Linked DNA regions of Homo sapiens. The protein of the gene in region 1 interacts with the protein of each later gene in a pairwise test. Each region holds a gene or a part of one and is shown in the gene's direction. Other genes may lie near its edges. The genes, in order: ASB13, ZMIZ2, POU6F2 and PANK2.

Region 1 (8,445 bases):
CCTGGAAGCAGAGGGATGAGTTGGGGACCATCGCTGAGATCAAGGTGCCCAGTGCTCAGAGTAGGCTGGTGGAGTGGGATGGTTTCATTTAGTAGGGTTGGGGAAGGAATCCATAGGATTTCGTATGAAGGGGAGGCTCAAGAGGTCAGAAATGAGTCAGGTTTGAGTCAGGAGCAAGGACCCCAGGAAAGGGAGAGGGCTCTAGAGTGGGAGACACCGGCCGGTGGCCAGCACATGGCTCTGGGGCTGGGGCTGGGTGTGAGGCTGGTGGGGAAAATTAGGGAGCTGCCAACAGTGAAGAGGTAATTGAGTGAACGGAAAGGTTGGAGCCTAGACGGAATGTGCAGGGGCGGGAGGATGGGGGGCCTGGAACCCCGCTCCAAATCCGCATTACAGACCCAGGAAGAGGAGCCACTTAAGAGGCAGGAGAGGCCGGGCGCTGTGGCTCATGCCCTTGGTAATCCCAGCACTTTGGGAGGCTGAGGTGGGCGGATCACCTGAGGTCAGGAGTTTGAGACCAGCCTGGCACATGGTGAAACCCTGTCTCTACTAAAAATACAAAAAAATTAGTCGGGCACGGTGGTGCATGCCTGTAATTCCAGCTATTTGGGAGGCTGAGGTGGGAGAATCGCTTTAACCCGGGAGATGGCGGTTGTAGTGAGCTGAGATCGCACCACTGCATTCCATCCTGGGCAACAGAATGAGACTTTGTCTAAAAAAAAAAAAGAGGCAGGAGAGGCGGCTGCCGTGGTGCACAGGAGGATGACCTGCATAAGAAAGTCTGGGGGGTTTCCTGGGAGGCTGGGCTCAGTGCTGACAGCCGCAGGTAGACACAGGGCAGGGGGGCAGCGGGGGAGTTTTCCCTGACCCATTCTAGGTGGTGCCCCATGTCTTCTGTTCTCACAGCAAGAAGCCGGCCAGGCCCGTTTCTCCCACTGCCTTGAGCCCTCCGTCCTCAGCGGGGCGCAGAGCCGTGTCCTGGCTTCCTGAGGGCCATGCGGGTCATGAACTCCTCCCTAGGTTGGGACGCAGGCCTGCCTGGCTTCCCTGCCCTGCACCAAGGATGGAGGCTGCTGCCCCTGCCGCGTCTGTGTGCTTGTTGTCTCCAGTGTCCGTATTCAAGGACATTCCCCCCCTTTTCCATTTATCTTAAGGGAGTTCCGAATGTGTGAGGCTTCTTATTGACGTCGGGGCCAATCTGGAAGCGCACGATTGCCATTTTGGGACCCCTCTGCACGTTGCCTGTGCCCGGGAGCATCTGGACTGTGTCAAAGTGCTGCTCAATGCAGGTGAGTGGGTGTTTGCCCGAGCGGGTGTTTACCTGAGTGGGTGTTTGCCCGAGCGGGTGTTTACCTGCGTGGGTGTTTGCCCAAGTGGGTGTTTGCCCGAGTGGGTGTTTACCCGAGTGGGTGTTTACCGGAGTGGATGTTTGCCCGCGTGGGTGTTTACCGGAGTGGGTGTTTGCCCGCGTGGGTGTTTACCCCAGTGGGTGTTTGCCTGAGTGGGTGTTTGCCCGTGTGGGTGTTTACCTGCGTGGGTGTTTACCCCCGGGGGTGTTTGCCCGCGTGGGTGTTTACCCGAGGGGGTGTTTGCCCGAGTGGGTGTTTGCCCGCGTGGGTGTTTACCTGCGTGGTTGTTTACCCCCGTGGGTGTTTACCCGAGGGGGTGTTTGCCTGCGTGGGTGTTTGCCTGCGTGGGTGTTTACCTGAGTGGGTGTTTACCTGAGTAGGTGTTTGCCCGCGTGGGTGTTTACCCGAGTGGGTGTTTGCCCGAGTGGGTGTTTACCTGAGTGGGTGTTTGCCTGCGTGGGTGTTTACCTGAGTGGGTGTTTGCCTGAGTGGGTGTTTACCCAAGGGGGTGTTTGCCTGAGTGGGTGTTTGCCTGCATGGGTGTTTACCCCCGTGGGTGTTGCCCACGTGGGTGTTTACCCGAGGGGGTGTTTGCCTGAGTGGGTGTTTACCTGAGTGGGTGTTTGCCCACGTGGGTGTTTACCTGAGTGGGTGTTTACCTGAGTGGGTGTTTGCCTGCGTGGGTGTTTACCTGAGTGGGTGTTTGCCTGCGTGGGTGTTTACCTGAGTGGGTGTTTACCCCCGTGAGTGTTTACCCGCGTGGTTGTTTACCTGAGTGGGTGTTTACCTGTGTGGGTGTTTACCTGAGTGGGTGTTTGCCTGCGTGGGTGTTTGCCTGCGTGGGTGTTTACCTGAGTGGGTGTTTGCCTGAGTAGGTGTTTACCTGAGTGGGTGTTTGCCTGAGTGGGTGTTTGCCTGAGTGGGTGTTTGCCTGAGTGGGTGTTTACCTGCAGAGTGTGTATTTATGGATTTATCTGAGAAGTTTGCCTGAATGGGTATATACTTGCAAGGCTGTTCACCTGAGCAGGTGTTTACTTGCACGAGCATTTACCTGAACAGGTATTTACTGTGCCTAGCAGAGAGCTGGGTAGAGGAGTCAGAGGGACCAGGGTTGGAGGCTGGCTCTCTTACTTGCCAGCTGAGACCTCGGGCCTCAGTTTACATATCTGTAACACTGGAAGAATCTATGCTGCAGGTTGCTGGGAGAACTGAGGATGTTTCCCCGGTGCCTGGTGTGTCCTAGTAGGTACTCAACAGATGCCAATGATTATTTCTAGAGATCACAGGCCACTGTCCCCACAGCTGCCTGGTGAGGTTGCTGCCTGAATCCAAGAGAGAAGGGGATGTAATGGGAAGTGGAGTTGGCAGCGTTTAGGAGAATATGGAGCATTTGGAATCCAGGCCATTGTCGGGTGTTCGAAAAGACTCAGGATTGAGATTCCCAAAGAGGGAAAAAAATCAAAACCAAAAAGACCAACCAATCGAGGATTAGGCTCAGGACCTGTCTATACCAAAAGTTTTAGCCAAAGTGACTGTTAGCACAGGGTTTTTATCAACCCAACTTAAATGTTTTGTTGAGGGAAAATTTTAGTTTCATCATCTTATCCAAATTCTGGGTGTAGTGTAGGATAAAAACAAAACTGTTTAGGATGGCTGGGCACTGTGGCTCACAGCCATAGTCTCAGCACTTTGGGAGGCTGAGGCGGGAGGATTGCTTGAGCCCGGGAGTTTCAGCCAGCCTGGGAAACATAGCAAGTCCCCTTCTCTTAACAACAAGAACAAACCTGTTTGGGAACAGGAAGATCATGAATTCCCCCTGATGACAGCCATTTGAGCTTAGTTATGTGTAGTTTTTTATTGGAGAATCTTACTCACTTTCATGTGCCACTTTTCAGTCTTTTTAGTGGAAAAGATTCGTTTTGTGTAGGAATAGTTGTTGAGGTACTTTTAATTTTTTTATACACTGTCTTAGAAGTATCTCCATTGGAAGCAGGTGTAAGCGTTTCCAGCCGAGCCGTTCCTCTGGCAGCTGGATCCGTTTCTATGAACACAGCGCAGTGCGTTCATATCAAGCCTTTATGAGCTCAGTACACACGAGTTCCATTTTTACCTTCGTTCTGTTTGGTGTGGTTGTAGGGAAAGGGATCAACTTAGTGTTTAAAGCAAACATCCTTTCTGTATCAGTTAGGACTTCATGTCAGTTGGACACCTTTGCGAGTAACAGGAAGCCACTTCCACTGGTAAACAATGGCGGGCATTTCTAGTTCAGGTGACTTCAGGGCTGAGACGCAGAGCAGGATTAGGGGCGGCTGGACCGGAGGTTCCGTGGTGTCACCCAGGCCTCAGTTTCTTTGAACGTTGCGATTCTGCTTTCCTCAGTATTGGCTTCATCCTAAGCCTCCGGCCTCCCTGAGCAAGGTCACGGGGCTGCAGTGGCTTCAGGCCTACACGCCAGACGTTTCCTGTTTTAAGCCTTCTGGAGGCTCTTTCAGCGGAGTGGAAAATCCCTTTTCACACACCCCTCCCCAGTCCCTTTGCCCAAACTTTGCCAAATTCTGATGGGCTGAAGCCTGGGTCATTAGAACTAATTACTGTGGTCAGGGGAGAGGGATTGGACTAGGCGGGACCCACGCTGGAGCTGAAGTCAGGTCTGCTCCCGCCCCCACCACATTACCAGGTGGCAGCACAGTCGGGGGTGGGGGCTGGAAAGGAAGGGGCAGCTGTGAGGCCCACTGTCGCCCTAAAGTGGGGTTCCCACAGCTCTCCCCGGGAGTTTGCATGCCCCTGGGGAGTTAGAGGTGAACGTGGCTTTCTTGGGGAAGCCTCCGCACAGTGACTGTTGGTGTTGGCTCGATGCTGTGGGTAGCATCCAGCCATCAGCTCCACGCGGGATTCCTGGTTCCCATCCTACTCTTGGGTGGTCTCCTCTAGTACCCCTTGTGAGAGCAGATGGATCATCATCTTCTTCTTAGAAACCATTTTTTCATTGCGGAAAATTTCAAACATACAGAGGAGAGAGAAACAACAGCATCCCCTACGTCCTCACAAACAGATTTTTAAAAAGTAGTGATTCTGATCTTTTGGGGTCAGGTCACAGATCCCTCGGGAAACCAAAGGAAAGCCAGGGACCGTGTCTCTAGAAAAACAGAAGAGTGGAAAGTCCCTTTTCCTGCACCCCTCCCCAGTCCCTTTGCCCAAACTTTGCCAAATTCTGATCGGCTCAAGCCTGGATCATTTGAACCAGTTACTGTGGAGAGGGGAGAGGGATTGAACCAGTCGGGGCCCACATGAGTGCAGGTGCTTTCATGTGCGGTTTGAGAGCTGAGCTGTGAGGCAGAGCCACGTTGCACCCCACGGGGGACGTGGAGACCGTTGTTCTTGTTCTTTGTAGGCAGTGAGGCGAGTCCAGGAACCAGATTGTATTTGCAAAGGAGGAGGGCTGGGGAGGGTGAAAGTCCGGTTATGATGGTGAAGTAATTTTTAATCTGATCACTGACAGTGAATGTTGAACTCTGCCAGGAGTGTTCGGAAGCGGCTCCCTGAGGACGGTCCTGCTTCCACCTTTGTTCTTAGCACTGGCCCTGGCACAATTTAAAAAATTTTTTTAAAATTGTTGTTTAATTTTTAAAAAATTTTTTAATTATAATTTTTTAAATTTAATTTTTTTTTTCAATTTCTCTTGTGGTAACAAGCACCTATTGAGCTATTTGTGTTTATGTTCCAGGATTGTGCCAGTCTTGGCGTGCTAAGGTCTTAGGCGGTCCCGTCACGTCACTGGCCACGGGTTCTCTGAATCCACTTTAATCCTATTTTGTGTTGAAAGCAGGATTTTGGTAATGAGCCTGTGTTGACCCCTTTTCTCTGAAGCACGAAGTTCAGAGCTTTTAATTCCCTGCTTGTTTCCTGGCTCCCTGTCTTTGTCTCTCTCTGTCTCTGTGTCTCTGTCTCTGCCTCAGTCTTTCTCTTGCCTCTCAGTTCAAGGTATGTTACCATCCTTGCTTCACACAAAGTTACTTTCTTTCCCTCTCCTACCCTCTTTCTCTCTTCCTTCTTTCCTCTGTATCTGTTCCCTTCTTTCTTTCTTTTTTTTCTGAGATGGAGTCTCGTTCTGTCACCCAGGCTGGAGTGCAGTGGTGTGATCTCTGCTCACTGCAGCCTCCATCTCCCTGGTTCAAGCGATTCTCATGCCTGAGCCTCCTGAGTAGCTGGGATTATAGATGTGCACCACCACGCCCAGGTAATTTTTGGATTTTTAGTAGAGACGAGGTTTCACCATATTGGCTAGGCTGGTCTTGAACTCCTGACCTCAGGTGATCTGCCCGCCTCAGGCTCTCAAAGTGCTGGGATTACAGGCATGAGCCACCGTGTCTGGCCCTGTTTTCCTCTAACGAGTACCTGTTTATGTTCTCTTTCTCACTATGGGCCTCACTCTGTCATCCAGGCTGGAGTGCAGTGGTACGATCGTGGCTTGCTGCAGCCTCAACCTCCCGGGCTCAAGTGATCCTCCTACCTCAGCCTCCAGAGTAGGTGGGACCACAGATGTGTGCCATCACGCCCCCCGGGTAATTTTTAAATTTTTGTAGAGCTAGGGTCTCACTATGTTGCGCAGGCTGGTCTCGATTTCCTGGGCCCAAGAGATCCGCTCGCCTCGAATTCCCAAAGTGCTGAGATTACAGGCGTGAGCCCTGTACCTGGCCCAAGCATATATTTTTAATGAACATAGCTGATCGAGTTTCATCTCTGACTCTCTTCTTGGCTCACTCAGTGCTATACTTTCAGGATCCATCCATGTAGCTGCCTGCACCCCTGGCCTGGTGTTTCCCTTCAATCCCTTATTCACAATTTCATTTCCTTCCTTATTCACCTTCCTTCCCTTCCACCCAATCAAATGATGCCAAACACACATTTTGAAAAGATGTACATTGGGAAGGCTGCCTCCCTGCAAGAGCCCCTGGCCAAGGCCTCGTCTGTGGAGCGTGGCAGGGAGCGTGATTTTTAGAGCTCTTTCCAGCCATGGTTTTCTCCCTGATCGTGAGAGAGTAGCTGTGCCTCCCTTGGGCCTCTTTCTCTGTTTTTCTTCTTTTGTTAAAATAGAGACCATCTCTTTCTCTCCCAATTGGCAAGAATATTGCCAGAATTAATGACATGAGAGAAAGCTACTTGAACTTTAGATTCTGTGGATGGTACAATTTGTTTTTCATTACAAGCATATGTTTAGTGTTAAAATTTACTTCGTGTTATGATTGCAACATTATACTGGAGGAAAACCCCTTATGTGAAAGAGAGGTTGAATTGTGGGGAAATATTTCTTTAATCTATTGCTTTTGAATATTATTTTTTTGTAGTACATTTCTGCCAAATTCAGGACATAGATAAGTTAGCATTTTTCCTAGTTGAGAGATCCTTTTCCTGTTCTGACTTCTGAGTTTTGGCTGCGGGAAGTGGAAAGAACTTTCTTAAATTATGTCATCACTTTGGAGGGCTGGGGCGTTCTTAGGATCCCTCCACGAATGCTGTTATGAGCATGGTTCTTATGTGCTTTTAGGGGATTAAAATATTTTAAAGCAGAAAGCGGGATTTTTCCGATGCTTTTTGAGCTAGAGGAACTAGAAAATGTAAAAGCGTTCCACCTCTCAGCTCCTCTTTTGACCCTCTGAGACTGTCGGGAAGTGATGGCATGCTAGTGTCTGATTGTTTTAAAATCCCACTTTTGATAATACTTTATGTTTGTGGTTTGAATCTATCATTTGGCGAATTATTTTACTGATGCTGGGCGATTTGCTTGGCTTCTTTAAAACACTTCTCTTTTATTTGTTTTCTCTTATAACCTCCTTTGTTACTTGAGGAACAGACTTCGAATAAAATGGCATTTTCTTTCAAAAGAATTCTGAAGCCCTGGGGGATTCCATTGTATCGGATCAGTGATGGCTGTGCCCTAAGAATGATGTGTTACAAAAATCATATTTTTATCAAAATTTTTTTTAGTGTGTTGCAAAATGCCATATGTGACCAGGTGTGGTGGCTCATGCCCGTAGCCAGGAGTTCGAGACCAACCTGGCCAACACGGCAAAACCCCGTCTCTACAAAAAATAGAAAAATTAGCCGGGCATGGTGGCACACCTGTCATCCCAGCAACTCGGGAGGCTGAGGCAGGAGAATCGCTTGAACCCTGGAGGCGGAGGTTGCAGTGAGCCGAGATCATGTCACTGCACTCCAGCCTGGGCAACAGAGTGAGACTCTGTCTCAAAAAAAAAAACCCAAAACCAGCCATATTTAGCTACTAATTCCTTGCATCTTTCTGAATGTCTGCTCTTTTTTTTAAAAAAAAATTTTTTTTTACCTTTACTTTTAATCAGCTTGATGAATGTCTGCTCTTATCGTGAGAAAGTTGAGGAGTGCAGAGCTTACTCTCTTCTCTGAATTGCCTACTGTTTTGGGTACGTTATCTGTTTTCCTTTTGTAAAAGAATATGCATTGTTAAGGAACATTTATTCTTTCATTCAACCAGTATTTCTGGAGCCTCCGTCCTGGGCCCGCAAGAGGAAGAAGCAGTGTGTGTCTGTGCTGGAGGCCAGGCGGGAGTGCTTGAGTGGCTCTGGTTTGAGCTTCCGGAAATCTCAGGACCCCTGAAGGCAGATTGATAGGGCATTAGAACGGTTGTTTAACTCAGGACATTTTTCGTTTTATTTTTCTTCTTTTCGGTTCTATTTCTAGTTATTTCTTTATTATTGCTGCCTACCTTTATCTCTCATGAGTGGGGACAGTAAGTAGTTCCTGCTTTTGGATGTTGAAAAACATTTTTGAAAGCTACGGTAGAGTCTGTCCTGATTTTGTCTTCTGGGTGGGGATTGCTTCTGCCACCGTGCTGTGTGACGAAACGGACCTGATTGTCCCCCTGACTTCAAGTTCTCTTCTTGGTGAAATCTCTTCTGCACTCTTGACCTCCAGGGGCCAACGTGAATGCGGCAAAGCTTCATGAGACTGCCCTTCACCACGCGGCCAAGGTCAAGAATGTTGACCTCATCGAGATGCTTATCGAGTTTGGCGGCAACATCTACGCCCGGGACAACCGCGGGAAGAAGCCGTCTGACTACAC
Region 2 (5,980 bases), on another chromosome or scaffold:
CTGGAAGCCAGTGCCCGTGAAGCCTGACATGCACATCAAGGAGGAGCCGGATGGGCCAGCACTGAAGCGCTGCCGCACCGTGAGCCCCGCCCACGTGCTCATGCCCAGCGTGATGGAGATGATCGCCGCCCTGGGCCCCGGCGCTGCCCCCTTTGCCCCCCTGCAGCCCCCCTCAGTCCCTGCCCCCAGCGACTACCCTGGCCAGGGTAAGTACAGCAGGCTAGCCTTGAACCTCAGATGACCCTGGGCATATGGCTCCTCTCCCCAGATCAGTCTCCTCACCTGCAAGAATGTGGCTATGCAGGTCACACACCTAGGTTATCAGTGTTGCCACACAAAACATGCCGCGGGGCACCTCCAGCCCCTCCCATCTCAGGGACGTGGCGGTGAAGGCACAGTCTCAGCTATGGTCCCAGGAAACAGACAGTGGGGCCTCCACCCTTCCTTCCCCGTTTGGATTAAGGGGCTCCTGGCTGGAACACCTCACAGGACTGGCCCCATCTGGGGCCCCCCTCTGGGACCCACCTCACACGCGTGGTGCGTTTGTTTGTGGCTGCTCCCATTCCTATAACCTCCGAGACCTTCACTCCTAGGAATGTCCCAAGGCCAATTCCCTTGGCAGCAATGAGAAGAAATGCCCTTTTCCAAATAGCGACTTCTGCAAAACCCGCTGTTGTTTGTGGGTGAGCACTGCAAGTCCCACCCATGCCACAGCCAGCCTCCCTCCTGGCTCCTCTGCCAGCGGTGGCCTTCCCCAGCCCTCACCCAGGCCCCGACTCTCCTCTCACAGGTTCCAGCTTCCTGGGGCCTGGAACTTTCCCTGAGTCCTTCCCACCCACCACGCCCAGCACCCCAACCCTTGCTGAGTTCACCCCGGGACCACCCCCCATCTCCTACCAGTCTGACATTCCCAGCAGCCTCCTGACTTCAGAGAAGTCTACCGCCTGCCTCCCAAGCCAGGTCAGTGCCAAGCCGAGAGGCCAAGGGGCCCTGTCTCCCCAGGGGAGCCCCTGAGCTGTTTTAACAAATTCTTCTCTCTGTCTTCAGATGGCACCAGCAGGTCACCTGGACCCCACTCACAATCCTGGGACACCAGGACTACACACCTCCAACCTTGGGGCCCCTCCAGGTCCCCAGCTGCACCATTCAAACCCTCCCCCAGCGTCCCGGCAGTCCTTGGGCCAAGCGAGCTTAGGACCTACGGGTGAACTGGCCTTCAGTCCTGCCACAGGCGTGATGGGGCCCCCCAGCATGTCTGGAGCCGGGGAGGCCCCAGAACCAGCTCTGGACGTGAGTACCAGGCCCCATGCGGGGGAGTGCGTGGGAGCCAGGGCTAGAGGTGGTGTGTCTGTTCCAGGTGCGTTCTGGAAGGGAAGACAGTGACCCCTCAGAGAGCCGGTCAGATAAGGTCAACTAAATGCAGCTTTTGTTCATGAATTAGATACCTGGAGTAGCTGCGGGTGGGATGCGATGTACCACATTTGTGTTCATGAGGGGCCTGGATGCCGTACGGGCGGACGCAGAGTCTCAGAGGAGACTGCACTGGAAGCTGACAGCACGGTCCTTAGAGTCAAATTTCGTCTGTCCATTTGCTCAGTAGCCCTGGGTCTTGACTCACAGGTGGAATGGGAGTGCAAACTCAGTACATGAAGGACAGAACTGACTGTCCCTGGACCATAATAGAAACTCATTCTAGAAGTTCAACATGAAACTCATTCTAGAAGTTCAACATGAAAAAGTTAGGAAGAACAGCTCCAAGCAGAAAATCCTAGGGGCATGGAATTCCACCACCAGCATTCACCTTGGGGCATCACGGTGGGGATCCCCACGCAGGCTGATGCACAGAGGGAGTGTGGAGTGGCTGCACTCCCTCACATCCCGTTTCCTGGTGGTATTGAACAGCATGTTGCCAGCTGTTCTGGCCCCAGAGCAACCTTGCAGGGAGGTCCCAGGGGGTGGCGTGTGCCTCTTTGAGCACATGCAGGCCTATGGTGGGGCCCCGCACCCGGCCTGTGTGTGAGGAGGGGCTGCTCAGCATCCCCACTGTGCCTGGAGACAGGGCCGGGATGTGGTGACAGGATGGTCACTCAGGTGTGGCCAGTCAGTGACCAAAGCTGCTAACAGAGTTCACTTTGTCCTCAGCTGCTCCCGGAACTGACCAACCCTGATGAGCTACTGTCCTACTTGGGCCCACCCGACCTCCCTACGAACAACAATGACGACCTGCTTTCTCTGTTTGAGAACAACTGATCCTGTGTTTACCCCAAGCCCGGCGGGGACACGCTCACAGATGTCACCACAGCCCTGCCCTTCATGCCCAGCCCCATGGGACACCCGGTGGTCTTTCCCAAACCTCCCCCAAAACACACCTGGAGCCAGAGCCTTCTGCCGCCAGCCCTGCCCCTGAATTGGAAGCAGCCCTGTGCTCGATGGGAGGGGCTCCCAGGCCGGCAGCCCTTGCCACCTCCCTCTGCCAAGCCTGCTGCTGCAGAACGGTTTTTGCTGAGGTGCCCCTGCCCAGCCCTGTCCAGCCTTGTCCACACACACATCTCACGCCCCTGGTCTCACAGCCTCACACCTTGTCCTTCCACCCCTGCCTGCCCCCACCCAGCCTGCTTCTTGTCCAGCATTGATCCTTCTGTTTCAACAACTCCTCCACTGGGCAGAGCTGGGCATCTGGCAGGGCTGGCTCTGTCCCCTGGGCCTTTGGCTCCAGTGGCCCCTGTGCCCAGCAGTCCAGCTCTTGGAACCTCGCTGAATGGCAGCCTCTTGGGGGCCTGGAGCTCTGGCAGCCCAGCCGTGTGTGGTGTCAGGTTCCTCTCCCCACCCCAGCTTCAAGCAGAGGCCTCGGGGTGGGGGAGCTACAAAGCACAACAATGTACATAGTGTAGAAACACTAACAGCTGGGAGAGGGGAGCCAGCTGTCCAGCCAGCATGTTCCTGTTGTACAGCCCGGTCTCCCTGCGCGCTCTGCTCCTTCCCATGTGCAGACAGATCAGGGAGGAACCTCCAATGGGTGGGGGACAGTGAGCTTCGGCCTGGCCGAGGTGGGTGGGTGGGCTCTCAGATTCAGCTCTGTGTAAAGATTCTCTAGCGGGCTGCGCTCCCAAGTTCCCCTTCTCTGTGAAAGTGAAGAATTAGTACAGCTGTGTTTTTTAAAGCCACCTCTCTGTCTCCACCCCATGGGCCCACACCCAGGTGGGGGAGGAGGAAGCCACTGCATCTGTTGGCTCAGGGCCCCAGCCTGTGCGAGCAGGGCGCCTGGGCTGTTGTGTCTCCTGTCTGTGCCGATCTCTATTAAAGGACTCCCTCTTGGTGGGCCTGGCCGAGTCCCTCCTTTGTGCTCCCAGGGACTATTTTCTCCTCGTAAGCCAGCGACCTGCCTAAAGCTTGGGCTGTGCCTGCAAAGCTTGTGCAGGACCTGGGGGCCAGGTCGACCTTCAAGTGGCTTTTGGGGCCCCAGGTTGAGCTCTGGATGTTTCAAGCCAAGGCTCGGCTATTCCCGCCCCATAGTAAATTTCCTTTTCCCTGGAATTTTCCAAGTTGGCTTCAGCTGAAGAGCTGTTTTGTGAAGCATCCCAGGCTTGCCCAGGAGAGACATTTGCCACTATGTCACCTTATCTGGGCTTGCCCTGGGGCACTGAGACAGTTGTTTGGCAGCCCCAGCCCAGCCAGGGGCTCATCCTTCTCAGCTCTTGTCCCTGGGAGGCCTCTGCTTGTCACTTCCCAGAGATTGCAGAGGTGTGTCCTGCCTACCATCTGCCTGTCCAGCTTGGTGGGGGTCCGGGTCACCATTTCCTCCAGTCCTGGGCCCCATCCTTGAGGGCCTTCCCAGCCAGCCAGCAGGAGAGGCAAGAACTGGGGGAACACAGGAACCTAGGGGAGGAGGGGAGCGCTGGGCATCCTCAGGCTGGCGGCCAAGGCCTGCCCCTGGAGGCACTAGAGGAGGGCATCTGTCTGTGGGAGCCCAGAGGCTGCAGGGAGGAGGAGGAGGGAGGTATCTGGTGTGAGCGTTGCCCCTGCGACATTTGGGACCACACAGGTGGGCTTCCTTATTCCCTGACAAAGCCTCTGTTTCCAGCTCTTCCGCCCTCTCTGGATGAGGGAACAGAAGTGGAGGAAACAAAAGAAGCAGCAGCACGCACAGTCCTGTCGCTGGGTGCGGAGACAGCCTGGCAAAGTCCCACTCAGCCATGGCCTGATGCAGGCCCCAGGCCCTCCTTTCTTGGGTGTCAAATGACTGTGTCCTGGACATCTGATGCACCACCTGCCCTGCCTGTTGCAAACGTGATGCTCCCGGATGGAGTGGAGAAACTAGGAGACTGGGACAAGCAAAAGGCTGCAAACAACCCAGAAGCCCATCCTCAGAAGACTGGAGAAATGATTGAGGAATGCATGGGCACCGTGGCCCTGTGCTCCATCACAAACACCTCTCAGAAACAACGTGGGATGAAAAAGCAAGACAGTTCATACAGTATGATGCCATTTTTATAAAGCTCAAAACCAAATATGTGTGGAATTCATACCCAGGTGCTAAAGTCATCAGGGAGGGCAGGGAGTCAGTACAACACAGTGCTCACCCGTGGGGAGGGGACGGAGCTGTGCTTAGGGAAGAGCAGAGATGCTGGAGGTTTTGAACCTCAGGGTCAGTGGTGGCTTCGTGGGTTTCACTTTGTCGTACTTTCTGTTTCACACATTTTCTTGTGAATGTGCCAAGTATTACATAAAAACCAAAAGGCTGACCAGACTTAACAGTGCTCCACCCAATAGCAGCAGAACACACGTTTCTAAGTGCACAGGGAACGTTCTCCAGGACAGACCACACGTTAGTGCACAAAGCAAGTCTCAGTAAATTAGAGATCGGAATCCTGCAAACCACCTTCTCCAATCACAATGGAATAAAACCAGAAATCCATACCAGAAGGAAAATGAAAATTCACACATACATAGAAATTGAACACACTTTTTAACAGCCAAAGGGTCAAAGGAGAAATCACGAGAAAAATTAGGAAATAGAGATGGATGAAAACAACATACCAGAACTTAAGGAATGCGGCAAAAACTGCTCTGAGGGAAATTTATAGCTGCAAATGCCAACATTTAAAAAGATGCGACATCTTGGCTGGGTGTGGTGGCTCACGCCTGTAATCGCGGCACTTTGGGAGGCCGAGGCAGGCAGATCACCTGAGGTCAGAAGTTCGAGACCAACCTGGCCAAAGTGGTGAAACCCTGTCTCTACTAAAAACACAAAAATTAGCCAGGCGTGGTGGCTCACACCTGTAATCCCAGCTATTCACGAGGCTGAGGCAGGAAAATCACTTGAACCCAGGAGGCAGAGGTTGCAGTGAGCTGAGATCATGCCATTGCACTCCAGCTTGGGTGACAGAGTGAGACTCTGTCTCAAAACAACAACAAAAAAATTCCTAGAAAGATACAAATGACCAAAATTGTCCCAGGAAAAATAGAAAATCTGAACAGGGCCAGGTGCAGTGGCTCACACCTGTGATCCCAGCACTTGGGGAGAACTAGTTAGGAGGATGGCCTGAGGCCAGGAGTTCGAGACCAGCCTGGGCAACAGAGACCCTGCCTCGACAAAATCTTTAGAAATCAACCAGGTGTCATGGCACGTGCCTGTAGCCCCAGCTACTTGGGAGGCTGAAGCAGGAGGATAGCTAGAGCCCAGGAGTTCAAAGCTGCAACGACCTATGACAGCACCACTGCACTCCAGCCAGGAATGAGGCAGAGACAGAGACCTGACCTCAAAAAAAGAAGAAAAAGGAAAAAATCTGAACCAACCTAAAACACATAGGTAGAACCAGTCATCAAAAGCTTCCCAACAAAAGAAAAGCCCAGGACCAGATGGTGAATTCTACCAAATGCTAAAGAATGGACATAAATCCCCAAATTCTCCCAAACATTGTGGAGGAGAAAACACTTCCTAATTCCCCGTATTCATGTGAGGGGCCAGCTTCCCTCCCAT
Region 3 (9,334 bases), on another chromosome or scaffold:
AATGCTACTGTATGCTCTTCAGAAAATGAGAGTGAAAAAGGAAAAAATCTCATTTTAGTGTTATTTTGAAAAAGTTTTGTCCTTCCAGACCCCCTGAAAGGGCCTCATGAACCCTCAAGAGTACTCAAACTACATCTTGGGATCCTCTTCTATGTTTTCCATAATTATTATTGCTGTTATTGTTATTGATGATGATGATGATTACAAAGAAATCCAGAATAGATATAGATATGGGTTTTCCAATGTAAGAGCTGCAAGTTTTGAAGTTCTCTTGATGAATTTCGTTCTGTACAGTCATCCATTTAAAAACGTTTGTCTTTAAAATGGTGGAACTAGGTCTATGTGTTGTGAATCTATCAATATAAGGAATAAAAGGACAGTGGTATTTAGCTTTTTCAGGCATGTGAAGCTATAACCATGAAATAGAAAAAGTCCTCTAGTGTACTGTGGCTGTAAGGAAACAGAATGTGTGTCTCCACCATTGTGGAGAATTTTCATGAGAAGTTACGTGTTAACATTTGGGCTCAGACACAAAAACTACCCAAAGTACAGTAAAACCCAGGAGCATTTCAATGCCTTTTTCCAAGCATATTCAAGCAGAAGAAATATATTCTAGAAGACCTAGAAATGCATAACTATAGCCAAAACATTTCATGAAGAGGGCAAATGGAAATTAAGGAACTGGCTCCATGTGTTGGCTTTTTCTATTTTTATCCTGGGTAAAGTCCCCTGGCAGAAAGGATGACGAAGTTGGAGGTCTGATAATGCATTAGTATATTCACAGGTCTTCCTTGCCCAGAGTCAACAGGCTCTTGAACTTCTCAGCTGCTCATTTTAAAGGCAATATCTTGTCACTGTTTCTCAGGGGAAAACCAGTGCTCCCAAATTATGTTGTAGAAGAAAACTGTAAATCATAGGTCATCACGACTAACGGTGCCTTGGCTCAGCCAAGTCAAGCCCCTCTCAACTCTGTAGTCCCTGGGCTTGATGTGTGAGGTTTCCTCCCTTCTCCCCTTCTCTTTTAAAAATAATCAATCTGTTTTGGGTATTTTTCCTGTCCTCAACTTCCCTAGAAATATGAAAATAACAACAAAAGATCCCAGGTTATAGATCAGTTACACTGGTCAATGTCCTGTGGAATTAAGAGACCCCTAATGTTGCTTAAGGAAACTGATGGTGATTAAAAAGACCATTCCAGAGAAATGCTCTACAAAACTTGAAAGTAGACAAAAATGTAGTGTTGTGGGGGTAAAAATAGAAAAAGCAATGGATCATTCCAGAGGCTGATGGCAGCATATGAAATTCTAGGAAAAACTGACTTTGAAAAGAAGGGCAGAAGCAAAGCCAACTGAAGAAGGGAAAGGGCAGTCAATGAGGAGTCTTGATTAGGGTATGTTGATTCTTGTCCCCCCGTCATCTGATTCCCATGTCAGCCTCAAAAATCACGTGATGACACAGCTATGTGGTGAGTCATGCTGTAGAGAGTGCTCTGCCATGATGCTTAATGTAGGAAGAAGACTGGAGTCTAGTAAACTAGGGGTGGGAGATTTAAAATGAAAAATAAAACGAGTCAGAGGAATGGTAAGTTAGTCTTTTAAAAACCAGGAAAGGTATGTACGCAAAAGCAAGAAGTAACAGAGAAATGAAAAAAAAAAAAGAGTAAAACCGTAAACAAAAAAGCAAACAACTACAACAAAAAGAACAGGTCTCAACAGAGAGAAAGGCATGTCATATCGATTTGTATTACATCTACATGTTATGATAGCATAAGTAGAAATATACTAAGTCTAGTAAGAGTGTCTTGATGACTTTTTGAACCATCTGTTCACTTTTTTTTTTTTTTTGCTTTTGGTCCTTGGATTAAAGAAGCCTCCAGGTATGTTAGCTCTTCTCATCCCTAAACATTGCAAAACATTCATCAAAACAAAGGAAGATGGAGATGACCAACTTCTGCACTTTATCTTGATTCCCAGTCCTCCATTTATCTATCAGTGTCCTCTGTGGTTTAAGAAATCAAGGACATCGCTATCCTGAGAAGCTAGGGACTGGGATTTTGGGCAATGGTGGGACCTCTTTTGGTTTGACTTACGGTGACCTTTTGCCATCACTGCTGCCTTGCCTACAAGAGTATCTTGGAAAAGGACATATCTAGCTGCTTCGCGATCAAGGAGTGGGCTTTAGAGGGCCAGAAAATGCACAATATTATGGAAATTTGATGGGAGGTAAGAAAACAGAGAGATGATGGTAATGGTGAATATTTCACTCAAGGAGTCTCCTTTCCTAAAATGCTACTGTGGGAATGGGAATCAATATTAGTTGGCATACCCCCATTCTCTCCCATTTGTTTTCCATTAATCAAACCTTAGAAGTGTCTGCCACCCACATTGATGGAGAAACAGATGGTTTGCTCATGCTGTTTCCCTTGCCCTGAACAGGAGCTGCCCTCTGTTTATATCACAACCCAAATCTTTTCACCATCTGCATAGAGGCTTCCTCCCTTCCCCAGGAGAATTAATCTTTCCTGCCCTCCATAGACCTCCCATATGGGAAAATAACTAACACTTGCTGGGCACTTACACAGTATAGCTCAATAAGCTTTCACAAAACATTATCTCCCCAAATCCTTACACTACCCTTGAGGGATTATTATCACTGGTATAAGACACAAAATCCATGACTCAGAGAAATGGCACTTTCTCAAGGCCACACTCTCTGAGAGGTCAGGGAGGGAGTCCATCCCAACCCGAGCCCATGCATTATGGTGCCTAAAGTGTCAGCATGTTCCACCAGCTAGCATCAAACAATTCCCCCAGATAAATCTTTTAACCATTTGGTTTATTTTTATTATGTTTCTAAAGCAATCTGTGCTGTTTTGCGCTAACACCAATACAGTACTTGGCACCTAGTACAGGTTCCATAAATATGTGCGGAAGAGTGGGTGCTTCATGTGTGATAGTCACTATTGTGAATGTTACTTGACTCTGTGGTTTCATATGAAGGGGCTCCAGTTTTGGATTCAGAGCAGGTTCAAATCATATTCCTATTAATCATGAGTTGTTACCTTTTTTTTTTTTTTGAGCCTAATCTGCAAAATGGGAATAACCATCTCTGCCTCACTGAGTTGTTATTTCACATGTAACATACTGTGAAGTGTCTGACACAGTGCCTGGCTCAGCCTCCCATCAACGCTGGCTAGTAATAATTATAATTCATACAGGCCAGATGGTCATGTAAACAACTGGAATATAAGCAAAGAGTGTTGTCCCTACGCCAATCGGAACCACCATAATTTGTGGGACAGAGCTTCAAAGGAGGTCTTCGGCCTCATACTGCAGCTTGGCCAGCCTCTCCCACCCACCTCCACCCACACCCCCAGCCCCCAGCCCCATAGGAAGGCGCTTAAGAAGCTTAGATCCCAGGGGAAGTTGAGCCTCCGATCGGGTGGCAGCGCGTGGGGAACCCAGGCTGCACTACAGAGGACGCAGGACGCCAAAACCACCCCGGGGCTCACGCCATCCGCGCACCGGCTCTGCTGCCTAAGTCCGAGGACGCAGGCGGAGGGCGCGGGGCTCCCGGGCGCCCAGGAGGGCGGTGCCGCCGGGGTGCGCTCCAGGCTTGGCTGCAAACCCCCCAAGAATTAGAAAGCGGGGGCGGCTGCTCAGCGGCTGCTGCGGCCTGGGACTGCAGCTCGCCCCTCCTCCGCAACTTCCCACTGGTCCCGTCACCTGGCTTTCTGTCTAGTGTCCGCCCAGGCGGGGTCCCAAGAAGGCGATGCCAGGAGCAGTCGCGCCCCCTGCCCTCTGTGAGCCCGCAGGTTTCGGGCAAGTTTGGCTCAGTCCTTGTCGATGCTCCAGGCTCGGCTTCCCTGGCCTCCCCTTCCCTGGCCAAAGGAGATGATGGGAAGCCTGAGGTTCTGATCTGGGATAACTGCAGAAACCCCCGGGTAGGACTTCAGCGCAGACGGGACATTTAATGATGTTGAGAAGGGCCTTTCCTCAGTTAGCCCTCAGCTCCCAGGAGGGCTACCCAGTTGGTGCACGGTCTCATTTTATTTGGGGATGCTGATTTAACTGTGTGTGTGTCTGTGTCTGTGTGTGTGTGTTTGTGTGTGTGTGCGCGCGCGCTTCGGTCCTTCATTCTTTGCTCCTAAAGATTTCTTTAACAATGTTGAAAATTGTTTTGTTTTTTTTTTCTTACTTGAAGTTCCTTTTGATTAATTTTCAAGCCGTGGGTATTATGCAATAATATACATAATAGTATATATTCTGTATTAAATATTTCTCATTGCTACCCGACCTGTCATCAGTTTAGAGCCTTGAAAAAAATCTCCATTTTAATATTAACACAAGGTTTTCCCATAAATTTGTTTTGAAAAGTTAGGGAGAGTATACTAACTAATGAACTTCAGTTAAAAAGTAGGCAAATGAAAAAAAAAAAGAAAAAAAGTAGGCAAATGCGAATGTTCTTCACTGCCACAAAGCCACCAAGTTAACGGATGGTGTTTATGGGTTTGGGTTTTTGGAGAGCAACTTTACAATACCTGTAGGATTGTCTTGAAAGTCAGGTTCCGATCTTTAGCCTAAGAAGGTTAAAAAGTTGGTAAGTTATATTCTTTTCACCCTTAACAATAACTGACCCATAATGCATTAGCAATCTGTCCCTAGATTGTGAGGAATCAGATAGTTAAAATTAAATTTAGAAAGTTAAAATACTTGTCATCACATTAAAAACACATTACATCAGTTTAGATGAGCTGCAAGTAAATCATCCCTTACCTTTCAGAAGATAAAAAGTTTAGTGACTGCTATTTACACACTTTGAATATTTTATATTACAGTGGTCATCATCATTTACACGGATTATTTTCTATGTCCACTTCCAATTCACAAATATCAGGGTGTTTGTTATGTAGCAGTTCACATTTCAAGCTTCTCTGAAAAGGTGTCCTTATATAAAACAACAGAGATAACTGCATATTATCAAAAGGTCATTTAGAGATTTTAAAAATAAAATCATTAGGGACCCCTTAAGAAAAGTAGAGCAATGAACTGTAATTTTAAAAATGTATATAATAGCACAAAAATCAAAGTCTTAATGGACACTCATTTGAGATAGTTCATTTTGTTTTTGTTTTGTTTTAAACATAGATTTCTAGAGCATTAAAAACAATCCTCATAGGTTTGTTAAACCTTTAGCGGAAGATTACAGCCCATGTTTTTGTCTTTGGTGAATAGCTGTTTGTCTCACTTTATTTACTTGGTATTGGATATTTGTCAATGTCATTTCATATCTACAGAAAATTCTTACGCTCTGTGGAGGTAGTGAATGTGTGTGTGCGTGTCTGCCGGAGGTCACATGACGGTTTCATTCTATTTGGTGGAGCAGCTTGACTTTTTTTCCCCTTGCTTTTGGTGATGGTTGTGAGTGCAGAAGTTGATTGACAGATGCATGCCAGAAACCCCCATTCTCCTTTTCAAAGACAACATATGATGGATTGCTATCTCTCAGCGCAGCAGGACACGGGGACCATGCAAGCTGTAATTGGTCAGGTATGGAGTCAGCCATTTCTCAACTCCCCTTTTTTCCACAAGGGTCTCACCATATGATTCACATAATTCATATTTACAGTACCATCTTTCTATCTGTATCTTCAGCTACCTGCCAGTGTAGTGCTGAAAGTGCGAAAGGCAAAAGGCACCCATTAAATCTGACCAGGGAAACCTCAGCTTAAAACTTCAATGCGATCCTTTTAAACAAAAACTAAAACAACAACAAAAACACTGGAGAATAAATCTAATTTATAATTTGGTCTGAATGTTTCTTAAAAATCTATTTTAGAAATTTGCTTTCTTTTTGGATTTTGATCTCTGAAAGAAAGTGCGAGAAGAGAATCAAGTGTGGTTTCCTAGGTAGTAGTTAATATTTTTCTAATGCTGTTCAATATTTTTATTTTGACTGTGCTCTCTCCTTCTCTCTTTCTCTCCCTCTCTCCCTTTCTCCATATGGGAAATATAAATATATAAATACATGTGCCTTGACTTCTAACCCAGATAATGTGTGATTGAGCCCGGTAAATGTAGTAGTAGTCTTGGCTGCTGCAGAAGGGCAGGCTGCAAATTAAACACTGTCACAATCTTGAAAGGTCCAGGTGGTCTGCTCGCGCTTCCTAATGCAATCCAGCACAGCAGCTTTAATAAACAGCTCCATTTAGTGCCTCCTCCTTGTATCTAGGGAGGTGAGCTGGTCTGGGGCTGCTGTGATGAAATGCCAGAAGAATATCTCTCAGAGGCCTCACAAGCTGATTTTTAGAGCTTTCCCGCTCTGTCGTCTTTGTCTTCCAAATGGGTCAGTGAATCTTGCTCTTTCTGTTTGGTGCTTTCCGTGAAGTCAGTAGTTTATGTTTGTGTTAAAATGTTTGCGTTGTAAGCTAAATCAGAAAACGAAAAGGATCATTGTATTTTCATTTGCCTTCAGATAACTAAAGTGGTGGAAGGAAGGATAGTACCCTCCTGCAAAGGGAGGGTGATTTTTCTGACTATGATGGGGGTGGGGTAAGGAAAAAGGAAATATACATGGTTTCTTTTCTTTTTTGTAATGTATTTTTGACTAAATTTTTCTAAGTTATCTATGTTTACTTATGGATTGTTAACTCATAAACCAGACTATGGTCACGAATATTTATAAACTCCTAAAAGTTTTTTTTTTTGTACACTTTCCAATCAAGACAAGCTGGCAAGGCAATGACATAAAATTTGTTTGCTTTATGTTAATAGCATGGTGGAAAATATATCATCTTATTCTGTTTTCAACAAAATTATAGAAAAGCACTTCAGGGTTCTGAAAGCACATGGTTTATTAATACCAGCATGCTTGCTTCATAATGTATTTTTAGATGGAAAATGTCAAATACATAATACCATGTTTTCACAGGCTCACACTATTTTAAAAGAAGTAGATATTTGCTTCGACAGAGAAATATTTTTTAAAACTTTCAAGTTAATTTTTGTTCTATAAGCATATATAAAGTGAAGTCTCTAGGCAGGAGAAAATATATAAACTGATTTTATATACTCTTAATACCTGTTTCAATGTAAGTACTCACTGACGAGCAAATATATCAAATATAGCTAAAATAATTGTGGTGTAGGGAATGAAATAAATATCTGTTACAATAGATGACTTTTGCATATTGAAATAAAACTTGAGCCCCTGATCACTGTCTTGTCCTGTTTAATAAAACTTTTCTTAGGTTGCAGGTCCTGTCTTCTGTATGGCATAGTTATGGTTCTTAATACCGTGCAGAATTACTGTACTTCAATCTCTAATAAGAATAGGATTTCCTTTTTCTATATATTTCTGGTGAAAAAATCAGGAAAGTCACTTGTAGTTTGTTATTCAGTATTGTTTATTGGAAATCAATTGTAAAGGCATATACTTTTTAAAGGCTCAGGTATATACTTAAAAAAATGAATCAGGACATATTTTTACAGATAGTAGGCTTAACTTCTAATTTGTCAGGATTTAAAATTAGTTATTATTACATAGCTCTGTATTTTGTATGTACTCTTTAGTATAATTGTTAAAGGTTCCACATGTCTAAGAACTCTACAGGTTAATGACTTCTTATGAATACATTGTAAATAGTTGCATCAAAGTAGTCACATGCTTTCTGAAGGTGTTATTTCTCATAATTTGTTAAAAACGCCTCAAAATGCCAAGTCAGTAAATTACAAAAGCAATTGTGCTGAAGGTTGTAAACATTTCTGTGCTAAAATGTACAAACTAGAATGCTGATTTTTTATTTGAAATTGAAACAGTAAGTATTTAAAAGGAAAGAAGAATAGAATATTGTCCTATATGTATACCATAAAAGTCAGAAAGTCTATATTGAAACCATATCTAGAAATATAAAAAAGAAAGGTGGTATACATATTTGAAGTGGATTCATTTCAATAGTTACAGCACAGATAAGTGTATTTACTCAAATGATTACTTCTAACAATAGGGAAAAGAATGTGAAAATAATTTTTATTGCTCTGCTGTCACTCAAAACCAGAAAGGGATGGTTTATTTTTTAGCTCTTGTCTTAAATATCGTCTTATATCTACTCAGCAGGTGTGAACAAGCCCATTTAATAATGCAAATGTTTGTGTTTGTTTCTGCTCAAATACGTTTTGGAATAATTATTATTTTTGTCTTTTTTTTTTCCTGTTCTGAGTGCTGTTCCTAGATGGCTTTGGGTTGGAGGAGCAAATAACCAGTTTTCAGTCAGAATATTGAAAGATTCCCATGAAGTATGAGCTTTAGGTTTTTTCATTCACTCCTAGGATGAAATATCCACAGTTGCTTCCACTGTAGGGAAGAGTAGACTTTTCTGTTTCTGGCCATGATCCAGCTCAGGACACAGCGCTGGCTTCACAGAGTAGAAATTGCTCATATATGCCTTTCCCCTAGGATTTCTCCTCCCCCAAGCAAGCAATTAAGCAGTCTAGTACTTGGAAGAACAAACTCCCTGCCTAGTATATCAAGATGAAGAAACTTGGTTCATTCACACAATTTTTGGAAATCAAATCAGATTTCTGATAGCAATTACCTGTAGTTAGCTTCCTAACCCCTTGAAGGTAGGATGGATTGTTATTCATGGGATGATTTTCAATTCAATTCAATTACACAGTTAATCAGTTTCTGATCGTTGGTTTGATTATCATTTAGAAATGAAGACTTGCATTTCCATCTCTTATGGCCATGTTTAGTGCTTCGTTTCTTTTTTTTGCAGACCTGAGCTTGTGAGTGACAGATTAGTTCATCAGTACTGCGGACCTCCTGTTTTTGTTTTTTCTCATCTCATACAGTCGGGTCACTGTGTCCAATACTCCTTCTGGCACTGCTGTCCCCAGAGGACTTAGGCAGCCCACCATCCTGATGCACAGGCCTGAGGGTCCCTGTTGGCTTCACGTCTATAGACTGACTTTTGCAAATATTGCAGAACAGAGGATATTAAATTAGTTGTTAATAAAAACAACAGATGAACCAAATTAGATGAAAATATTTATCAAGTATATCTAAGAGTTTGCTGGGAGTGAGAGAGAGACAGCTGGATAAAGTGATCATGGATGCACTTCCAGTTGACATTGCTAAAGTACTAGTAGAAGAGAGAAGAGACCACACATTCTATATTTTAATAGCATTAGAAGTGCAGTAAAAAGCTGTTTACAATTTCCCTTACTGGTACAATGGGTCTTTTATTTTTCAAAGTACATTTCGACCATGTGAAGTGTTGTAAAGTTGTACATCAGAAAACTAATGCAAATGTCTCAGACAGTGCTCAGTATGT
Region 4 (8,445 bases), on another chromosome or scaffold:
AAACTCAGAATTGCTAGCTTCATAGCTTTTGCGGTGGACCACTGTGTTTTTCTGAATTATTTACGTTCTGTTAGTTATTTCTTCATTGCTCTAAGACCAAGCATAAGTTTGATCTTTTGTGTTCAAGACTGACTTACTTGAGGCGAAAATTTTTAGATACTGTGGAAGTACTTCCAAATATTGAGCATGAGAATGACCTGGTAAAAGTGCAGATTCAGTGGGCCCAGTTAAGCTCCTCATATTCAAATACAGGTGACTCAAAGACCACACTCAGAAAAACCGGTTTACACTGGGTGGGGAGAATTATATTAAGGTAGTTTTGAAACTTATTTTAGGGAACTAAGTAGACACATATTCATGCTATAGGATTTATATTTTGTTTTGATGTTTGATGTTTGTCGTGATTCCCTTCATTATCTTCTCTGGCTGATAAATCATGAAAACCCATCTTTCCAGTATAAGACCTGCTAAAGGAATGAACAGGATACTGATTGTTCTTCCTTCCATTTGTTTCTTCTGTACTATCTAGGGGTGCCCCTGTTAGGTGGAGAAGCAGGCTGGGCGCAGTGGCTCATGCCTGTAATCCCAGCACTTTGGGAGGCCAAGGCGGGTGGATCACCTGAGGTCAGGAGTTCGAGACCAGAGACCAGCCTGGCCAGCATGTTGAAACCCCGTCTCTACTAAAAAATACAAAAATTAGCTGGGCGTGGTGGTGCATGCCTGTAATCCCAGCTACTCAGGAGGCTGAGGTGGGAGAAACATTTGAACCTGGGAGGTGGAGGTTGCAGTGAGCCGAAATTGTGCCAGTGCACTGCAGCCTGTATGATACAGTGAGACTCCTCAAAAAAAAAACAAAAAAAAAGGAGAAGCAGCTTGTTGACTGCCGAACCCTCCTAGAGTATACTTCAGTCTTATCTCTGAGAGAATTCAACTAAGACTAAATCTTTTTTATTTATTGTTGGGAGGTTTGGGTATGGAATGGTGCCACCTTTCTGGTGAAACCCTATCTCTACTAAAAATACAAAAAAATTAGCCGGGTGTGGTGACGCGTGCCCGTAGTCGCAGCTACTCGGGAGGCTGAGGCAGATAATTGCTTGAACCCGGGAGGCAGAGGTTGCAGTGATCGAAGATCGCGCCACTGCACTCCAGCCTGGGCGACAGAGCGACTCTGTCTCAAAAAAAAAAAAAAAAAAGCCTTACTCTGATACCGCACTACTTGTCTAAAGGTGCAGATAGATACTAGTTGTCATTTGAAAGTCGAAGGAGCTATTCAGGTTATCTTAGGCATTCTTGTGGTCCTGGTTGTAGTCGTGTTCTGTCACGCGTTTCCTAGAGCAGTGTAGTTCCCAAACCGGCCCTTGTCCCAGACTTACTGCATCAGAATCCCTAGCGATGAGGCTAGGCATGTGTATATTTAAGTTCTTCAAAAGTTTTGCATCAGGTGGGGAGGGGGGTATGTCTCGCAGGGCTGAAAGAAATACCAAATAAAGATTGATTTTAAAATGATGGAAACCAAGACGCTAATGATGGTAATGTAGCTACCATTTTCTGAGTGCTTATTTGTCTTGGACACTATGCCGAGTATTTTATAAGCATCTTGGTTAAGTCTCATAGCTATCCTGTGAGGTAGGTGTTTTTTATCCCCAATTTCCAGATGAGAAAACAGGCTCAGTGAAATTGTCCTTTTGTCCAAGGCCATATAGTGAGTTAGTGATGGAGTTGGGTTTTGATTCCTGGTGTCTTGACTTCAGATCCAGTGTTCTTGGTCCACATTTTGGGGTGGGGGAAGGTATGTGTGATGTAATCCAGAGCTGTGGTTCTCAAGTTTTTAAAACTTTCCCTCAACCTACCATTGCATGATATAGGTCTGCAAAGGGGTCTAAAATTATATTTTAAATTTTATTGAGGCATAATTAAATAGAGTAAAATGTACAATTTTGGCAAATGTAGACACTCATGTAACAAGAGAACATACATTTTTATCAAGGGCTCCAGGTGTTGAGCATATGTGCAGCAGGTGTGCAGAAGGTGTGGAAGCCCTGTGATCAGAGTGCTCCACAGTAGTGTGGACAACAAACTTATCCTTTGAAGATGACTCGCAAGGCATGTTGTAGCATGCCAGGGAGACCTTTGGGGCTTGTTGATTTTGGACTCCTACAAATCTAACCTTCATAATACAGTTTTTGTTTGTAGCTTGACAACACTAGCCTAGAAAATGGATCATTTTTTCTTGGCTTTCCGAGGAGCGTTGCTGTTGGCAGTATGGAACTGGAGCCGGGGCCCTGTTAGGCTGCCTTTATTAGGCTCAGCATTTCAGCTTCAGGGAATTAGGACGGATTGACCCCTGGGAGCTGAGGAAAAATGTTAGATTGCTATAGCTTTGTGGCCCATTGGGAGAGGCAAGATGGGAGTTTTTTTTTTGTTTGTTTTTTGTTTTTTTTTTTTTTTTTTTAGAGGAGTTTCACTCTTGTTGCCCAGGCCAGAGTGCAGTGGTGCAATCTTGGCTCACTGCAACCTCTGCTTCCTGGGTTCAAGCAATTCTCCTGCCTCAGACTCGCAAGTAGCTGGGATTACAGGCATGTACCACCATGGCCAACTAATTTTTTGTGTTTAGTAGAGATGGGATTTCACCATGTTGGTCAGGCTGGTCTTGAGCTCCTGACCTCAGGTGATCCATTTGCCTCAGCCTCCCAAAGTGCTGGGATTACAGGTGTGAGCCACCGTGCCTGACCGAAAAGATGTTGTTTGTTTGTTTGTTTTTGAGACAGTTTCACTCTTGTTGCCCAGGCTGGAGTGCAATGGCGTGATCTCGGCTCACCACAACCTCCACCTCCCAGGTTCAAGTGATTCTCCTGCCTTAGCCTCCCGAATAGCTGGGATTACAGGCATGCGCTACCACGCCTGGCTAATTTTGTATTTTTAGTAGAGACAAGGTTTCTCCATGTTGGTCAGGCTGGTCTTGAGCTCTGGACCTCCGGTGATCTGCCCACCTCAGCCTCCCAAAGTGCTGGGATTACAGGTGTGAGCCACCGCACCTGGCCTGAAGGTGTTTTTTAACCTATTGATTTATCAACTTTTTATTTATTTATTTATTTATTGAGACGAAGTCTTACTCTGTCGCCCAGGCTGGAGTGCAGTGGCAGGATTTTGGCTCACTGCAACCTCTGTCTCCCAGGTTCAAGTGATTCTCCTGCCTCAGCCTCCTGAGTAGCTGGGACTACAGGTGTGTGCCACCGTGCCTGGCCAGTTTATCAACTTTAAGTGGAACCAAAGTAAATACAGCCTGTCTTCTTAGATATATAATAAATACTAAGCAATAAGCAGGGACTAAAAATCGTCCCCTTATGCAGCTGTGTAAAATGGTACAGTATATTACTTTAGGGGCCATGTGTAAGAATCATGCAGTTGGATAATATGGTTGTTTAGTGTTGGTGTCCCTGCCTTCTATCTGGGGAGACCATAGCAGGAAGAGATGTATGTTGTTAAAAATATTTTGCTGACTGTGTATGCTGGCTCATTTCTGTAATCCTAGCACTGTAGGAGGCTGAGGTGGGAAGATCACTTGAGACCACGAGTTCAAGACCAGCTTGGGCAACATAGCCAGACCTCGTCTCTCCAAAAATAAAAAGGGCATGCATGGTGGCTCACACCTGTAATCCCAGCTACTCAGGACGCTGAGGCAGGAGAATCACTCGAACCCAGGAGGTGGAAGTTGCAGTGAGCCGAGATTGCGCCACTGCACTCCAGCCTGGGAGACAGGGCGAGACTCCATCTCAAATAAAATAAATAAATAAATAAATAAATAATAATAAACAAATTAGCAGAATGTCGTGGCACATGGTCGTAGTCCCAGCTACTTGGGAGGCTGAGACAGGAGGATTGCTTGAGCCCGGAGGATTGCTTGAGCCCGGAAGATTGAGGTTGCACTGAGCTATGATCATGCCACTGCACTCGAGCCTGGGCGACAGAGGGAGACCCTGTCTCCGTTTTTTTTTTTTTCTTTTTTTTTTTCTCAAAACATTTCAAAAAATAGGAGGAGGAAGATAGACTAGGCTATTGTAGAGCATCAGGCAATGAAAAGAATGGCTATTTTGATTATTTAAAAGAGCGGTGATGTTTTTTGGACTTAAAGTTTGTAGCCTTGTGAGCTTTTCTCAGGTTCATAATTTGGGGTATCTTCAGGCACTGTTCAGGTAAGACTGACTGGGATGTGAAAACTTTTCTAAATTGCGGCTTAAAGTTTGCTTTCTAAAAATGAAACCCATCTCAGTTTTTTAGTAGTTCGTTACATTTTGTGTGTTTATATTTCCTGAATGTAGAATTTGTTGTTGAATTTGCTGATTTTACGGTATGTGGTCTTTTATAAGTATCTAGTCCCTGAGTTTAAAACTATTTTGGGAATAAGAATAATTATTAAAGTACCTCTTTCAATGTTAGGCCAAGATATTGCTTTCCTAGAACAGCCTAGACATGGATTTGCGATGTCATTAACCATCTGTGGTCTGGTAAAAGTGTAGTTCATAATATTGGAAAATTGAGCACACTTTTAAAAGTAAACTGTGTGTTTCTTTTTTTTTTTTTGAGACGGAGTCTTGCTCTGTCGCCCAGGCTGGAGTGCAGTGGTGCGATCTTGGCTCACTGCAAGCTCCTTCTCCTGGGTTCATGCCCTTTCTCTTGGCTCAGCCTCCTGAGTAGCTGGGACTACAGGTGCCCGCCACCACGCCTGGCTAATTTTTTTTTTTTTTTTTTTTTTGTATTTTTAGTAGAGACGGGGTTTCACCATGTTAGCCAGGATGGTCTCTATCTCCTGACCTCGTGATCCGCCTGCCTTGGCCTCCCGAAGTGCTGGGATTACAAGCGTGAGCCACCATGCCCAGCCTACTGAACTATGTATTTCCCATTGGAAAGTGTGATGTTGTGAAATATATATATTGGTCTTTTGCCCATTTCCTGGCATACAACTCCTGAAATCCTTAGAAACTCCACAGTGATGTCCTTTTGTGTGCTAAGGAGTTAACTGATGGCTGGAAGCCTCTGGACTTAGTCATGGAAAGAACAAGACAGGATTAGAGGGTTGGGACTTTCACTCCTCTCCAGCCTCTGGGGAGGGGTGGGGGCTTGAAGGTTAAGTTGATCACCAGTGGACAGTGATTTAATCAATTATACCTACTAATGAAGCCTCCATTAAAAACCCAGGAGGACAGGGTTTGGAGAGCTTCTGGATGGCCAAACAAGAGGTTCCAGGAGGGTGCAGTGCCCGAGAGCACAGAAGTTCCGTGTCCCTCCCCTATACTGTGTACTATGCGTCTCTTCCTCTGAATCTTTTGAAATATCTTTATAATAAACCAGTAAATGTGTTTCTTAGGTTCTGTGATCCAGTCTAGCAAATTAATCCAAACCAAAGAGGGGTCATGCAAACTCCAACTTGAAGCCAGTTGATCAGAAGTTCTGGAGGCCCAGATTGGCAACTGGTGTCTGGCAGAGGTGTGGTGGAGGAGCAGTCTTGAGGGACTTAGCCCTCGACCTGTGGCATATGATGCTATCTCCAGGTACATAGTCGTTGGAATTGCATTGGAGGGCACCCAGCTGGTGAGTGCTGCAGAATTGGTTACTTGCTTTGTGTGTGGGCTCACAGAAGTCTTCTGTGTTGATCGTTGCTGTGGTGTGAGAGCAGAGGAAAAACTTTGTTTTTCCACACTCTTAAAGGATTTCAGTCGTTGAGACCTATTATGGGACCTTGTGCTTTGCATACGTTTTGAAATGTGGCCTAAGTCAAGTATAGGTTGTCTAGACTGAGTACCTTGGAGGTCTTAATATCAGGAAATATGTTAAGGGCTGTGAATAGACTGAAATATCTGAAAATTAATGGCCAGGACTCACTAACTAGAAGGCAGGGGCCTTCTCTTATCAGTGAGCTCTAGGCTGGATGTGTTAGCTCACGTCTGTAATCTCAGTACTTTGGGAGGCTGAGGCGGGTGGATCGCTTGAGCTTAGGAGTTTGAGACCAGTCCGGGCAACATGGTGAAACCTCGTCTCTACAAAAAATTAGCTGGTTGTGGTGGCCTGCACCTGTAGTCCAGCTACTTGGGAGGCTGAGGTGGGAGGATCACTTGAGCCAGGGAGGTTGAGGCTGCAGTGAGCCTGAACCTGGTGATTGTACCACTGTACTCTAGCCTGGATGACAGAGTGAGACTGTGTCTCTCAAAAAAACAAAAACGAAAACAAAACCTGGGTGCAGTGGCTCACGCCTATAATCCTAGCACTTTGGGAGGCCGAGGTGGGCGAATTAGTTGAGGTTACGAGTTCAAGACCAGCTTGGTCAACATGGTGAAACTGTCTCTACTAAAAATATGAAAACTAGCTGGGCATGGTGGTACGAGCCTGTAATCCCAGCTACTCGGGAGGCTGAGGCAGGAGAATCGCTTGAACAACTGGGAGGCGGAGGTTGCAGTGAGCTGAGGTCTGTCGCTGCACTCCATCTGAGCAACAGAGCGAGACTCCATCTCAAAAAAAAAAACCTCTTGGTTTTAATTGGTTATATTGGATTTTGTTTTTTGGAATCTGTTGAGATAATCATGATTTTTTTCCCTTCATCTTACTAATTGGAATTTCTAATGTAAAAGCCATTGCTGCATTACTGAGAAGAATCTCTTTTGGCTATGGCCTATTAATTTTACTGTACAACTAGATTCCATTTTTTATTTTATTATTTATTTATTTTGAGATGGAGTCTTTCTGTCACCCAGGCTAGAGTGCAGTGGCACGATCTTGGCTAACTGCAGTCTCTGCCTCCCGGGTTCAAGCAATTCTCCTGCCTCAGCCTCCTGATTATCTGGGATTACAGGCGCCCACCACCATGCCTGACTAATTTTTGTATTTTTAGTAGAGATGGGGTTTTACCATGTCGGCCAGACTGGTCTCGAACTCCTGACCTCAGGTCATCCACTCGCCTCGGCCTCCCAAAATGCTGGGATTATAGGCATGAGCTGCCTCGCCCTTAGGCTTTCTTGCTGAGTATATTTAATAAATATGTAAGGCTAGATGTTTCCGTTTAAGTACTACTTTGGGTATATCCTATTGGTTTCTATATATTGTATTCTCACTGTCATTCATTTAAAAATAAATTTTGTTTTGATTTCCTTTTTAATCCCAGAGTTAATAGTTTAAAAATTTCAAAGTAGATAGATTTATTTCTTTGTTTGTTGGATTAATTTCTAATTTTGAAGTTTTGCAGTAAGTGAATGTGACTTGTTCTTTGGAATTTGAAGTTCTTTAAGCTAGTGCAGTTAATTTTTGTGAGTGCTTTATGGGTTTTTAAAGGAATGTTTGCATGGTTTTGTTTGTTTTGGGAAACAGTCTTGCTGGTCTTGAGTGTTTTTTTTTGTTTGTTTGTTTTGGGAAACAGACTTGCTGTTGTCTAGGCTGGAGTGCAGTGGTGCGACCTCGGCTCACTGCACCCTCTGCCTCCCGGGTTCAAGTGATTCTCCTGCCTTAGCCTCCCGAGTAGCTGGAATTACAGGTGCCCACCACTGCACCTGGCTAATTTTTTATATTTTTAGTAGAGACGGGGTTTCACCATCTTGGCCAGGCTGGTCTCAAACTCCTGACCCCGTGATCCACCTGCCTCGGCCTCCCAAAGTGCTGGGATTACAGGCGTGAGCCACCGTGCCCAGCCGGGTTTTTTTTTTTTTGAGATGGAGTCTCGCTCTGTCATCCAGGCTGGAGTGCAGTGATGTAGTGTAGGCTCACTGCAACCTCCACCTCCTGGGTTCAAGTGATTCTGCTACCTCAGGCTCCCAAGTAGCTGGGATTACAGGCATGTGCCACCATGCCCGGCTAATTTTTTGTATTTATTGGAGACGGGGCTTCACCATGTTAGTCAGGCTGGTCTCGAACTCCTAACCTCTGGTGGTCCACCCATCTTGGCCTCCCAGAGTGCTGGGATTACAGATGTGAGCCATTACATCCGGCTGTTTTTTTTTTTTTTCCCCAGAGTTCTATTTGTGTTTACTAGATCCACCTTATTAGCCATGATATTAAAATTCTCTTTCTACCATAATTTTGTAGGTGTGTGTGCAATCTACAAATTCCTGAGGTCTGTGTCATTCTCATACTGACTTGTAGATGTGTCAGTTTCTCTGTTAGTGTTTTCGAAGTATGTGTTATGTGCATAAGGAACATGGCTATTACATTCATCAGTTGTACTTTTTTTTTTTTTTTTTTTTTTGAGATGGAGTCTCGCTCTGTTGCCCAGGCTGGAATGCAGTGCTGCGATCTTGGCTCACTGCAAGCTCCGCCTCCCGGCTTCACACCATTCTCCTGCCTCAGCCTCCCAAGTAGCTGGGACCACAGGCACCTGCCACCATGCCCGGCTAATGTTTTGTATTTTTAGTAGAGACGGGGTTTCACCATTCACAGGATGGTCTCGATCTCCTGACCTCGTGA

Evidence for each region.
Region 2: the proteins of ASB13 (region 1) and ZMIZ2 interact in binary tests that used the Homo sapiens proteins (3 or more experiments, as listed by UniProt).
Region 3: the proteins of ASB13 (region 1) and POU6F2 interact in binary tests that used the Homo sapiens proteins (3 or more experiments, as listed by UniProt).
Region 4: the proteins of ASB13 (region 1) and PANK2 interact in binary tests that used the Homo sapiens proteins (3 or more experiments, as listed by UniProt).

Annotation. Positions count from the first base shown.
Region 1 is NC_000010.11:5,641,814-5,650,258, reverse strand, and holds part of ASB13 (ankyrin repeat and SOCS box protein 13), read left to right. Parts: intron 1-1,154; coding exon 1,155-1,289; intron 1,290-7,705; exon of another isoform or gene 7,706-7,786; intron 7,787-8,297; coding exon 8,298-8,445. UniProt on the Homo sapiens protein: May be a substrate-recognition component of a SCF-like ECS (Elongin-Cullin-SOCS-box protein) E3 ubiquitin-protein ligase complex which mediates the ubiquitination and subsequent proteasomal degradation of target proteins.
Region 2 is NC_000007.14:44,765,374-44,771,353, forward strand, and holds the end of ZMIZ2 (zinc finger MIZ domain-containing protein 2), read left to right. Parts: coding exon 1-206; intron 207-593; coding exon of another isoform or gene 594-628; exon of another isoform or gene 629-651; intron 652-790; coding exon 791-960; intron 961-1,047; coding exon 1,048-1,290; intron 1,291-2,142; coding exon 2,143-2,250; 3' UTR 2,251-4,508; downstream 4,509-5,980. UniProt on the Homo sapiens protein: Increases ligand-dependent transcriptional activity of AR and other nuclear hormone receptors.
Region 3 is NC_000007.14:38,972,510-38,981,843, forward strand, and holds the start of POU6F2 (POU domain, class 6, transcription factor 2), read left to right. Parts: upstream 1-5,399; 5' UTR 5,400-5,444; coding exon 5,445-5,549; intron 5,550-7,385; exon of another isoform or gene 7,386-8,997; intron 8,998-9,334. UniProt on the Homo sapiens protein: Probable transcription factor likely to be involved in early steps in the differentiation of amacrine and ganglion cells. Recognizes and binds to the DNA sequence 5'-ATGCAAAT-3'. Isoform 1 does not bind DNA.
Region 4 is NC_000020.11:3,891,499-3,899,943, forward strand, and holds part of PANK2 (pantothenate kinase 2, mitochondrial isoform 7 precursor), read left to right. Parts: intron 1-8,445.